Linked DNA regions of Homo sapiens: region 2 is linked to region 1. A link means that fine-mapping ties the variant in region 1 to the expression of a gene that starts in the linked region. Tissue or cell type: whole blood. Region 1 holds a variant in brackets; the other region holds the start of a gene. All regions are shown on one strand. Distances are from middle to middle.

Region 1 (2,500 bases):
CAACCCCTCCTTCTCCTTCTCTTTCTTCTCTGTCCTCCTCCCACCTTCTCTACCTCCTCTTCCTCCTCCTCTTTCCTGTTCTTCTTCCTTCTTCCTCACCTCTCTAGGTCCACTTCGAGTTGGAGATTTAGGAAAAATGAGGCAGGAAAAAGCGTCTTGATGTGACTGACTACATGTCACTGCTTTGATCAAGGTCAAACCAAATCAGTCTGATGTTTGTGGTCTTTGGTGATGTAGTTAGTCATTGCCTCATAGGCGATATAAGTTGTTTCCCTGGAATGTTGTTTAGTTTCATGTGACTTCTCACAGTAAGGACCATCCCTCAAACAGAGGAACAGTTATTTCTTCCTCCTTCCCCAGCAAGGTGCTGGCCCCCTTCCCTTCTTCTGCTTAAGAAGCAAATCCCCAGTTGTCTAGACAGTTTCATGTCTCCTGCCCTTATACCAATCTCTGCTATGGAAAATACAGAATATCTTGTTCCATGCCCTTTAAGGGCCACAGAAGGATTGGTGTGGGATTGGGGCAGAGAGGCTAGACAGGAGCAACTAGCCCTTAATCTTCCCAGACATTATACACTTCAGGGCCTGGTGTCAAGCCATACTAGCAAGTCTGCTCCAAAATTTTATGCCAGAAGAAACTAAAAGACTCTGATCAAGAATACCATAAAACTTCAGTGGACACTTACATGTAGAGAGAGGTGCTGAAAAGATTCCTCATACCATAGAGCATAACAAGCATCCAGCCATGAACAAGAGCTCAGCCTCCCATCTTGTAGGCATCCTTGATCTTTATGAGTGGGGCCCTTCACAGCTGGCACTGGGTAGAGAAAAACACCCTCTTCCTACTCTAATGGAAGAATTAGCCTCTTAACCCAAATATTCTGTTTCTCACAAGGTCAACGACTCTCTCTAGTCTTTCTCTTACATTGATGGAGCAGGTGGGAGGAGCAGGGCTGTATCTATCCTGTTTGGCTGATTGGCTATTGACTCTAATAATGTTTTTGTCTCTAATTTGAGATCTAAAATTCAAGAATATGGTAAATTCCACTCAGGAACTTGTTACAGTATTTTTTTCACTTTATCTTATATCCATTGCATGTCAAAAGCACAGTACTGAATGAATTTTCATTTACCCCTACAGATAAGAAAGAAAATTTTAAGTAAATTATCAGAAGAAACCAAAGTAGCTCTTACAAAACTCCATAACTCTCTGAATGAAAAGGTAAGTAAAGTTTTATTCTATTTACATGTCAGGGCTAGCAGTTTGTTACAAAGATCTTTGAGTAGATTTTTTTATCAGAGTAATTGTAAATCCAATCTAAAACTAGTATTTTGCACTCAGCTGCCTCTTTGAAATGAGAAGAGAAGACCAAGCTGCTGGCATTTTACCATTGTTAGTTCTATATCACAATTTCTAACTTAATGAGAAAGTGACCCTTTTAAAAATTGTATTTGGGATGTAAAATTACAAAACAATTGTTAAATGGCTATACTTCCTTATGCAGTTATATATAAAAGTAAATTATGGTATTCAATGCCTTTTCAGAGCATAGAAGA[C/T]TTTATTTCTTGTCTGGATTCTGCAGCAGAAGCTTGTGATATTATGGTGAAAAGGGGAGACAAAAAAAGGGAAAGGTAACATTAAATTAATCTATATTTGGAAATGTTCTTAAATGTGGAGCCTTTCATATCTGAAATTTGAATTTGACTGCCCGGCTCTTACACAGAGAATATGTACCTAATGTGTCTAATATATCTAAATGGCTGTAGACCTTCAAGAATATTCAAAGTCTTAAAATAGTTAGATATTTCTCTCTGACCCTCTGGATCAAGTAGCAGAGTTTCTTTATCCTATAGTTCATCAAGCCCAGGAACTTTTTATTAGCTTGGGGACTTTCCTTACAGGAAACCTTACCTAATCAGTGCAAATTTGTTTGACCTCCAGCAACTCAAAACAAAAAACATACTTTGAGTATTCCCACTCTATAGCTTTTTCTTTAATTTTGTAGCACACTAATCTATCCATGCCATTTAGGTTTTATGTGTGTATATCCCATATTGAAAAGTTACCTTAAATTTTTATGGAATTAGATAAACTAGAGAAGCTAAAAATTAACAGAAAGGGATGAATTGAAATTGGTGAGAACTTCTTAAATTATGATAATGAATTTGTGTGCTTTTTTTTTTTTTTAGACAGATACTGTTCCAACATCGACAAGCACTGGCTGAACAGCTAAAGGTCACAGAAGACCCTGCTCTTATTCTGCACCTCACATCAGTCCTGTTGTTTCAGTTTTCAACCCACAGCATGCTCCATGCACCTGGAAGATGTGTCCCACAGATCATTGCTTTTCTTAATAGTAAAATTCCAGAGGTATTACATTTTCAATACACTTGAAACTTTCAAAGATTTACATTCTGAATATTTTGAGTGGATTGAGATGAATTACTGTCAGCACTCAGGTATAAAATACATTAACATCAAAGCCCATTTCCAATAATGT
Region 2 (2,677 bases), 30 kb before region 1:
TTAGCATATAATGAGCAGTGAAGACGACCAGAGGTCACTGTATTCATCATCTTGGTTTCTGGTGGGTTTTGGTTGGCTTCACTACTGCAACCTGTTTTATCGGCAAGGTCTTTATGACTTGTTTTTCCTGCCTGTGGACCTTCTATCTCACTCTGTGACTAACCTCCTGGGAATGCAGCCCAGTAGGTTTCAGCCTTATTTTACCCAGCCCCTATTCAAGATGGAGTTGCTCTAGTTCAAACGCCTCTGACAACTAGTCACCCTGCTGTGCTATCAAATACTTGATATTATTCATTCTTTCTAACTGGAATAATATTTTTTAAATAGTAAAGAGTGAGATACATGAACTCCAAATATCTGAGACAGGTCACAATCAACTCAGAAAGTTTATTTAGCCAAAGTTAAGAACTTGCATCCATGACATGGCACAGATCCTGACAACATGCGCCCAAGGTGGCTGGGGCACAGCTTGGTTTTACACATTTTAGGGAGACATGGGGCAGCAATCAATATATGTAAGATAAACATTGGTCTGATCTGGAAAAGCGGGGCAACTCCAAGTGGGGAGGAAGTTCCAAGTCATAGGTAGATAACAGACAGTTGCATTCTCTTATGAGCCTCTCCAAATGAGGCAATCAGACATGCATTTATCTCAGTGAGCAGAGGGGTGACTTTGAATAGAATGGGAGGCAGGATTCCCTAAGCAGTTCCCAGTATGACTTTTCCCTTTAGCTTAGTGATTTGGGGGTCCCATGATTTATTTTCAATTCATAAGATATAAAAAAGATATAAAAAAGAAAGGTACACCTGAGTAAATATCTACTCAACAGGGAAGCAGGATACATGTTCTCTTTGCTTTCCCTGTTTCCTTGATAGCCATGCACCTTATGTTTATATTCCTCATTATTTGATGAAGTTAATCATTGCAATAAGAGAAATACGAAAGACTCTAGAACTCTAGACACGAAAGCAATTATACAGCCTTTATGACACGCAAATTTATTCACTCTGTAAAAAAAAAGTAATTACTTTCGGTAGGGTCTCCCATGTATCTTCCAAAAGGCAGACTGCTCTGGGTGCATGTAAAAATTAACACGATACCCTATACAAAAGGGAATGCTCAGAGTTAACAGCTAGAGAAGAGAGGCGCCAATCTTAGACACAGGCTTATTCCTCCGCACCCTCCCCCAAAACAAATGGAGGACAGAAGAAAAAAGAAAAGTAGTTAATACAACTATTACTCTACGGAAATATTAGGGGTAGCGCAAACAAAGTTCTGACACTAAACTTTACTGAGCCCTGCATCCTGCCCACGACCCCCCCAGAAACACCTACGCACCACTCTCCTAGCCGCCGCAGCCCCGCCAGTCTCGCCGGGAGGAACCCCCAGCGCCGCGGTACAACCACGGCACTTCCGCCCGCCCCCCGCGCCTCGGGCGCAAGCGTTTGGTGTGTCTGCGTCGGGGGCGGAGCCTCTTGTCCCTCTGCGCGGCCCGTTCCGCCTCTCTTCTCCCACCGCCTGTCGGCTGACGTGTCTGCAGTTCCTCCGCGTCTACTGCGAGTCAGGCCGTGATGGCGGACGCCTGGGAAGAGATTAGGCGGTTGGCGGCCGACTTCCAGCGGGCGCAGTTCGCCGAGGCCACGCAGAGGTGCCCGACCCTCCCTCTCCTTTGTGGAGCCCAAATTAGGCCGTGGGCGGACACGCCTGTATCTGGGACTTTAGACCCGCGGCCCTGCATCCCGGGTCTTCTCGCTGCTTGTCACCATTCTCTCCTCCTCCCTCTGTCCCGAGCCTGGATCGCAGTTCCAAGTCCAAGGCTCGGCGGGAAAGTCCTCAGCCTAGGACGCCCTGGAGCCCCCCAGCCCAGCTGCAGCGAAATGCTGGCGCGCCCCGCCCCACCATGGACGGGGCCGGTGATTTCGAGCTGCCTTTATTGAGCATTTCTTTGACCCTCCCTCACCCACCAACCACCAAATCACTGTGACATCTTGGCTATTATACACTTCCTGATCTAGAATGAGCTCGAAAGGAGAGGCTAACCCCCGCCCCCAGTACAGTACTTGGCAAATAGTATGTTGATCCTTAAAACTTCTTGCCCTTTTATCTCTCGTAACAGACCTAGGGCTAGACCCCTGACCCCATCTGTTATTCAGGGCACTGACATTTTCTACAAGCCCACTAACCTTTGGAGGATGTGTCCAGAGGAGCCTAACTCTGCTTTTTAAAAATAACGCTAATAGAAGCCTTTCTATTCTTTGACTACTTCCTACCTGCGATGTTTTATTCCTTTTGAGCCGGAAGACAGCAATCCCCTTATGCTGTATTTTCTACCACTGATAGCAAACTCGTAACTGCATGGGTAACTAACGTGGGTAAAAGTTATGGTTTCACTAGGCCACATCCCCTGCCTGCTTGCAGACCATGTGTGTAAGTGAGGCAATTATGCACTTAATTTAAAAGAAAATTCTGATTAAACTGGAAATTAGGGCATTTTTTGTTTTGTTTTGTTTTGTTTTTTCTTTTTTCCTACCTAAATAAATGTCTTCAATTTTCCCTTCAGATTTGAAGATTGGAAGCAGGCCTGTAAGAGACAACAGACTTGAAATTTGTGATGGGATGATGTGTACCAATTAAATAAATGATTTAAGCATATGTAAACCTACTTACTCTGAAAGG

What was found. PIP is the estimated chance that this variant, and not a neighbour inherited with it, causes the effect.
Region 2: it holds the start of UFL1, and the variant in region 1 is fine-mapped to the expression of UFL1 in whole blood (TOPMed, PIP above 0.99). The same link has a PIP of 0.9 or more in blood mononuclear cells.

The regions. Positions count from the first base shown.
Region 1 is chr6:96,550,293-96,552,792 of GRCh38, forward strand. It overlaps UFL1 (UFM1 specific ligase 1), which reads left to right. Exons shown (of 19, transcript NM_015323.5): 16 at 1,141-1,221; 17 at 1,546-1,631; 18 at 2,190-2,370. Among named protein-coding and RNA genes, the nearest start is that of FHL5, 12 kb to the right of the region's middle. The variant C/T (reference allele first, on the strand shown) is at 1,557.
Region 2 is chr6:96,520,302-96,522,978 of GRCh38, forward strand. It overlaps UFL1 (UFM1 specific ligase 1), which reads left to right and starts at 1,505. Exons shown (of 19, transcript NM_015323.5): 1 at 1,505-1,649. The coding sequence starts at 1,573. UFL1-AS1 (UFL1 antisense RNA 1) reads right to left here and starts at 1,413. Exons shown (of 4, transcript XR_007059687.1): 1 at 1-1,413. RefSeq lists enhancers at 1-221, 222-1,093, 1,094-1,965, 1,110-1,299, 1,966-2,677.